Linked DNA regions of Homo sapiens. The protein of the gene in region 1 interacts with the protein of each later gene in a pairwise test. Each region holds a gene or a part of one and is shown on either strand. Other genes may lie near its edges.

Evidence for each region. The genes of interacting proteins can lie anywhere in the genome.
Region 2: the proteins of PIAS4 (region 1) and ESRRA interact in binary tests that used the Homo sapiens proteins (3 or more experiments, as listed by UniProt).

Annotation. Positions count from the first base shown.
Region 1 is NC_000019.10:4,006,116-4,009,856, reverse strand, and holds the start of PIAS4 (E3 SUMO-protein ligase PIAS4), read right to left. Parts: upstream 2,122-3,741; 5' UTR 2,097-2,121; coding exon 2,070-2,096; intron 1-2,069.
Region 2 is NC_000011.10:64,303,388-64,307,128, reverse strand, and holds the start of ESRRA (steroid hormone receptor ERR1), read right to left. Parts: upstream 1,606-3,741; 5' UTR 1,393-1,605; intron 1,252-1,392; exon of another isoform or gene 1-1,251. Other genes in the region: CATSPERZ (cation channel sperm-associated auxiliary subunit zeta), read right to left, coding at 2,483-2,586, 3,290-3,356, 3,568-3,647. UniProt on the Homo sapiens protein: Binds to an ERR-alpha response element (ERRE) containing a single consensus half-site, 5'-TNAAGGTCA-3'. Can bind to the medium-chain acyl coenzyme A dehydrogenase (MCAD) response element NRRE-1 and may act as an important regulator of MCAD promoter.

The DNA.
Region 1 (3,741 bases):
TCAAGCTGAGAGTCTCAGATTTCAAAGTTCACCAACAAACCCCCAACATTCGCCCCTCCGAGCAGTCTGTGATGCACCCCAAAAGACAGAATCTGCAGCCATGAATATGACAGGCTGGGGAAGGCCCCTGTAAAGAAGGGGATGTTTCAATGACATTTAAGGTACTTGGAGAGGTAGCAACAGACTCAAGGAGAAAGAAGGTTCCCCAGGGTCCAGGCCCCCTTGAATGGAGGCTCACGGTTTAGAGAACCTGAAAGAAGGGTCAACTTGATTTAATTGGGGTGGGGGGGGGCCCAGCCACCAGAGGGTTAAGGAAAGTTCATCAGATCATATTTCAAGGCCTGGATGGTACAAAAGAGTGCAGACCCTGCCCTCAGCCAGGGTGGGGGTTGGGGTCCAGGGTCACAGCTCCAAGCCCCGAAACGGGAGGTTACATTTCAGGACTCCAGGACACTTCAAGCCCAGAGCCTGCCACTTTGGGTTTACAGAGTTCAGGCCTCCACATCTCCAGGGCGAGTCTCCACTTTTCAAAACTCTAGAGAGGAGCAGAAGTGTGCGCAGGGGTGTAGGGTTGGGAGGCGAAGAGAGGTATATGCTATAATCACAGAGCCCTGAGTGCTGTGTTTTCAGATCCCAGGGGGTAATGTGAGAGGACCGAGAAGAAGATACGTACAGGTCAGGACCGTGGGGAGGGAAGATGTGAAAGGGGATGGGGGAGGGAGAGGTCCCCTAACCTCCCCGGAAGCCGTGGCCTTGCGGGCACTTCTAAGGGTTTTAGACCCTCAGCTCTAGGTAGGCACCTACAAGAAGGTACATCCCCTGGAATGGGGATACTCTGAGCTCAATCCCAGGATGATTAAAAGTGGTTCCAAGCTAGGAGATGGTATCTATGGGACATGGGACCTGGACAGGACCCAAAGTATAATAGAGCAGCAGCAACAGTTGTTCTAAAGAGGCCAGCCTTGGACCCAGTGGGGACCCTCCAGAGATCAACAAAAGAGAATAGGCAGAAAGAGAGGGGACCTTAGAAACCAAAGTTGGGGTGCATAAAAGTTCTGGGGGCTGTGTAGGGGGAGGGTGGGTGTCTGACCTAAGAAGTAGACTCGCTCAAGAGCAGAAAATAGGAGAAGCAGCCAAGGTTTGAGGACAGTATCTGATGCTGCACAGGTGAGGTTTAGAGCCCCCTGAAGCAGAATCAGTAGCCTCAGATTCTGTCCCGAGAGGAACGAGGTAGGACCAAAGCACAGTCCAGGATTTAAGATTAAAAAAAGGAGAATAAAGAAGGTCTGTGACCAAGAAGAGTGGTCCGAACTCCATCCTATGGGGAGGGAAAGGGAGGGCCCAGCCTTCCCCCAAGCGCCCACTCCGGCGTGTGAGAGACGGTGTCGGGAAGGGGGCGGGGTTCTGGGACCAATGCAGGAGCTGAAGAGGGGCTCAAGACCGAGCCTGAACTCCAGACCCCAAGAGGACGTGCCGTGTCTTGGGGGTGGTCTCAGGGCCCTGACTCCTCCACCTGGACGGTGGCAGGACACTATCCAGGACTCGGGGGACCCTTCCGAGCAGGAGACTCGCAAACCCCAGCCTGGCCTGTTGGGCGGGGACGAGACCCAGATAGCAGTCCTGGGAGCCCTGTGGGCGGGGAGGCGCAGACACTCCCCCCAACACACCAGCCAAAAAGCAAGGACCCCGGCTCGGAACCAAGAGGGCAACGAGTAGCTCAACACGTCCCGCATCCCGGCGGGACGGTGCCTCAACCGGGAGGCGCGGCCCTGGCCTGGCGCTCAGGGACCGGGACCCTAAGGGCTCGGGCTGGGTGGGGGGACCCTGCCTGAAGCCGGGGGAGCGACCCCCGGCGCGAAGACCTGGGTGAGGCAGGAGGGCCCCGCCCCCGGCCTCCCCGCCCCCCGCCCTCACCCTGAGACCGGGGGTCGGGGTCTGGGGGCCGGGACGGCGAGCCGCGGGCCGGCCGCGCTGTGGGGCCCCGGACAGAAGGCGCAGACCTCGACCTGCGGCCCGGCCCCCGCCCTCTCGCCCACTTGCCCCGGCCGGCGCCGCCACCGCTCACTCACTTTGGCCTCCACCAGCTCCGCCGCCATCTTGGTCACCAGCGTCCCCCGCGCCGGGAGCCCCCAGCCGTCGCGTCACGTGACCGCTCACCACTCGCGGGCGGGGCCGCCGCCCGGGCCAATTAGCACCCGCGCGCGCTCCTCCCGCCGCCGGTGCGCGCTGCTGCCTCCTGCGCAGGCGCGCGCGGCCACCGCCCGGGCCTCCGGCCAATCAGGTCCGTCCTACACCAGCGCCCCCCCCCCCGCTCGCGGCGACCACGCCTACCCCGGCGGCGCCTGACTCCTTAAAGTGGTACTAGCCCTGCGCAGGTGGGGACGGGTGCTCGGTTTCCTCTAGGGAGGGAAGGCGAGAGGGGGCGGTGGCAGCGACAACAATGCAGCTAGGTGCCGTGGCTTCCTGCGCGCGGCGGCCGCCAGGTGCGTCTCCAGACTCCCGGCGGCGTCGGGCAGGGGATGGTTGCTCCGCCGCAACGGCCGCCAGTGCGTACAGTGAGGCGCCTTGCAGCGCAGCGCGGTGCAGGCTCCACGGGCCCAGACACCCCGCGCGCTGCACATCCGGGTCCTGGTGTGCAGATGGGGCGTGGGCTCGGCAACCAGCTGGCTGGGGGCGCCCGGCGGAGAAAAGCGGGACCCCTGCTCCCAAATTCCTTGGAGATCGTACAGCCCTCACCTCTTTGCAGGCGCCCCCCCCATCCTGCCTCCCCACCCATGGGAAACCTTGGATCTGCACCAGTTGGGACCTCTTCTCCAAAGCGCTCCTTGGCTTTGGAGCTAAGTGGCTTCGTGCCCGTAGAAGTGGATTTCAAACTTCAATAATCAAGTATTTTAGTGCAATTTATTTTTTATTTTTATTTTTGTAGAGACGAGGATCTCATTATGTTATCCAGGGTGGTCTCGAATGTCTGGGCTTAAATGATCCTTCTGTCTGGGCCTCCCACAGTGCTGGGATTACAGGCGCGAGTCACCACACCTGGCTAGTCCAACACTTTAAACATAAAAAAATCAGTGCAAAAGAGTCCATGATGGATGAAATACCAAATTGTTATTTATTTATTTATTTTCGAGACGGAGTTTTACTCTTGTTGCCCAGGCTGGAGTGCAATGGCGCGATCTCAGCTCACTGCAACCTCCATCTCCCGGGTTCAAGGGATTCTCCTGCCTCAGCCTCCCAAGTAGGTGGGATTACAGGCGACTGCCACCACGCCCAGCTAATTTTTTTTTTGGCCAGGCTTTTCTGCAACCCCTGACCTCAAGTGATCTGCCCGCTTCAACCTCCCAAAGTACTAGGATTACAGGCATGAGCCATCATGCCCAGCCTTTTTTTTTTTTTTTTTTGAGAGCCTTGCTGTGTTGCCCAGGCTGGAGTGCAATGGAGCGATCTCCACTCACTGCAACCTCTGCCTCCTGGGTTCAAGCGATTCCCCTGCCTCAGCCTCCCGAGTAGCTGGGATTACAGGTATGCACCACCATACCCAGCTAATTTTTTTTTTTTTAGACGGAGTCTTGCTTTGTCACCAGGCTGGAGTGCAGTGGCGCCAGGCTGGAGTGCAGTGGCGCAATTTCGGCTCAGTGCATCCTCTGCCTCCCGGGTTCAAGTGATTCTCCTGCCTCAGCCTCCCGAGTAGCTGGGACTACAGGTGGGCACCACCACGCTCAGCTGATTTTTGTATTTTTA
Region 2 (3,741 bases), on another chromosome or scaffold:
TATGGGGGATGGGAGACACCCTGCCACACGGGTTGCCCAACCTCGGGCCTAGGGCCAGGCTTCCAAGCCCAGCAAGTGGGGAAGAAGGGGGGCAGAGTCCAAGGAAGGACTGCCCAGGAACACTGCCCCCTCCTAGCTGTTGCCATGGAAACAGAGTCTTCAGGGCCAGTAACTGACAGCAGGTCTCCCCCTTGGGAACCTGGGGGAGGCTTAGAAAGCCCCTACTCCCACCCAGGCCAGGGAGCAGGGTAACCGTAGCCCCCAGGCAACCTTCAACCCCACCTGGAATCCCTAGCCAGGAGCAGGATACTTCCCAGTTTTCTCCAGATGTTGGGGGGACCTCTGAGACCCTGCCCTCATCTGGGTATTCTGCATTGGAGAGCAGACCCAAGGCCAGTGGACGTGCTCACACCGAGTTCACACACTCCACTCACCGGGGTGCTCAGGAGCCCCACAAGCCCACGCAGGCTCGCTCTCTGCTGAGGGCTTTCACACTTGCACCGGCCTTCCCAAACCCGTGCTCACTCCTGCTCACACTTGTGCTCACACACTTCTCCTGGAGCGCACACCCCATCCACGAACTCAGTCAAGGCTCATGATCACACACACTCTCACTAGGTCTCCCCACATCCACACGCACAGGCACGGACTCATGAAAACACCTCCAGAGCTTTTCACACCTGACACGCGGCTGCCCTCCTGCCCCAGCATGCCGGTCCCAGGCACACGGCGGGCGCCGCTCCACCTCCTCGCGACCAGCCTGCAGGTCCACTCTTATACTCCCGCTGTCGCAGAGGCCGCCACCTCCCGGGGCGCCGCGTCCCGCCCCCAACCTGCGCACACCTTTGGGAAGTTGCCTAAAGTTGCTACGCCTCCCCCTCCCCGCCCGCGGGAGACCTCTACCAGGTTATCAGGAAGTAAGTGGGGAGAGCCAAGGAGGAGGAAGTTCTCCCCTGCCGGTGCGATGACCTTTGACCCAGAGAGGAGGGTGGCCCCAGGCCCCTTCGAGCGCCCCCACGTGGTCTTCAGAGCCCCTTCCCAGACATAGAGCCCTCCCCGTCTTCCACCCCGGCCAGCCCCAGGGACTTCGGCAAATGCGGGATTGAACCCTGCCCCGGAGCGGGCTGGATCGGAGGCCCAACCCTGACCCGAGTCAGGACCCGCAGCCAGAGCCAGATCCTGCCCCAGGCCGGCCCACCAGGACTCGGACGCCGGATCCCGCCTGAACCCTGACCAGTCCGACCCTCGACTGGGTCCCAACCGTGGCCCGGACTGGCCCCAGAGTCGGACCCCGCCTGCAGCCCGCCCCGCCCGCCTCCCTGCCGCGCTCGCACATGGCCCCCGCGCCCCGCCCGCCCACCCCCGCGGCAGCGCTCCCCTCCGCCCCCGGACCTGGGGCTCCGGCAGCGCGGTCGGGCAGGCATGGGGGCCGAGCGGCCCGGAGTGCCGGAGTGAGCCGGGGGCCGCGGGCGGCCCCTCCTCCGCCGCCTCCTCGGGCCGCGCCGCCCCACCGCGCCGCGTCCCCTCACTCGGCGGCGCCGCCGGCTGCTTGTAGGACACAAAAGGACATCGCGGCCGCTTCCTACTCCGCTTCCTCCAGCTGACAGCGGGGGTGGGGCCGGCCGTGCGCATGCAAAGCAGGGGGCGGGGCCCGGGGTCCTATGCTAATCAGACCAGCGGGGCGGGCGGCGCCTGCGCGCCCGGACGAGTCGGGGCGGAGCCGGCAGCGCCAGTGGGCGGGCCTTCGTGCAGGTCCCGCCCCGCAGCCCGCCGAGCCACTGCGGCGCACATGCGTACGCGGCCCCTGGGAGGGGCGGGGCCGGAGACGCGGAGGGCGGGGACAATAGAGCCGAGAGCAAGTGGGGCCAGAAGCGCTCTTTCGTAACGGAGGAGGCGGGGCTTGCTGCGCGCGAGAGGAGTGGGCGAGGCGGTGCAGGCTGCAGTCGCGGAGCCAAGAGACCACTTACAGATGAAAACGCAAGGGCGGGACGAGCGGAGAGGCTGGACCTGCTACCTATGCTTGAGGGGCGGAGCCTAGCGCGCCGTCGCGAGGAGGGAGGTGCTGCCCCGTTCCCCCTACCCCCTTCCCCCAAAGCGACACCAACTGAGCACTCGAACCGTAGACCCAGTAGCCCCACAGAGCTGCGGAACTCGGGGTGGGTGAAGCCGACTTAAAACATGCAATAAGTCCTGGATTGCGAGTCCCGGAAGGTAGGGCCGATAGGGCCCGGACGGAGAAAGCTCAAGGTCACTGCGGTGACCGAATGAAGGTCACTGCGGTGACCGAATGAAGGTCACGGGGAAGGGCGGGGCCACGTGCGTCCGCCTCACGCGGGCTGTCCTGCACTGACTCACGGACCATGCATCGACTCTTTTATTTCTTTAGGACTCAAATTCCACTCGGATGGGGTCAGGCTTGGGTCTGGGGACCGGGCTGGCACGGGGCTGGTTCGGGTCGCTGCTCGAGCCCAAGGTGGCGTTTTTAATTCACGTACAGCCTCTTGCTCCGGCGCTTCTTGAGCCCTTCGATGTATCGCTGCAGCTCCTTAGTCAGGAAGTGGTCCCTGCCGATCCCTAACTGGTAGCCTAGGAGGAGGGCAGAGCTCGGCTCAGGGCAGTGAGCAACCGAAAGGTCTCCCCACCAGGGGGCGCCGCATGTGTGATTCGAGGAACCGCAGATGATTCGAGGTAGCAGTAGCGCAGGGCACTCAGGTCTGTGTTAGCCTGGGGAACTTTGCATCTCTAAGGGTGCTGAGTGTTAAGGTGGAGGATGGATGAGGTCAAGGCTAGGGAAGAGGTTGCAGGCCTGAACTAGGGCGGTGGTAGCGAGCAGTTTGCCCACCTTCTGGACCAGCCACCCACTCTAAGCCATCAGCTGGCCCTTTATCACCGCTGGGCTTTCCTACCACAGCAGCAAAAGTTCACCCACATAATCCACTGTCCAAAGGCTCCTCACAACTCCCCAACCAGAGGCAGTCGAGGCCACACCAAGGCGGTCATCCCACTGTGCAGGTGGAGAAACAGCCACAGAAAAGCCTCCCTCAGCTGGAGAGGGGCTGCACTCAGCCTGGAGCCCAGGCCTCTGCCCATCACCACATGTCCCCCACTGGGTCTTCCTGTGCCCAGTCCCTCAGCTTTTAACTTTTATGGGGCCCTTGGAATACTTGTGAGTGCCAAGGGCATCTGACAAGACATAAGGCACCCTGAAACCCCACCCCCCTGGGCCCCAGCCCTGCAAAATCCACCAGAATCTGTCGTGGGAGTTCTTGGGGGTTGGCGGGGAGCTTACTCCGGAGGGCTTTGGTGAGGATTTCCAGAGCTTCATTCTCCATGAGTTCCATCAGGGGCAGTGGCAGCTGGAGAAGCAGCAAGAGGCTTAGGCGTCCAGGTACTTCATCTCTGCCCACAGCTGAAATGCCCCCACCTCCTCCCTGTGGCCCCCAAACCCCCAACCAGCCTGCCTGCCCCTCCACCCTGCCAACCACCCCCAACTTTCATATCCTATCAACCCCCAATTTGCCTATCCCCTACCCCACCGAAACGCCCAGTCTCCCCAGCCCCTCCAACCCTGCTCTGCTGCTCTGCCCAGTAGGCTCGATGGGGCATGTGCTTCGCAATATTGAGTGATGACATTGAGGAAGACTTTTCTGGGAGAAGAGAAAAAAGGGTTAGTCATCCGCAGACTCCTGGGCCTTCCCTGGAGCACAGGAGATGGGTAGGCACCTTGTGAGAGGGAATGGC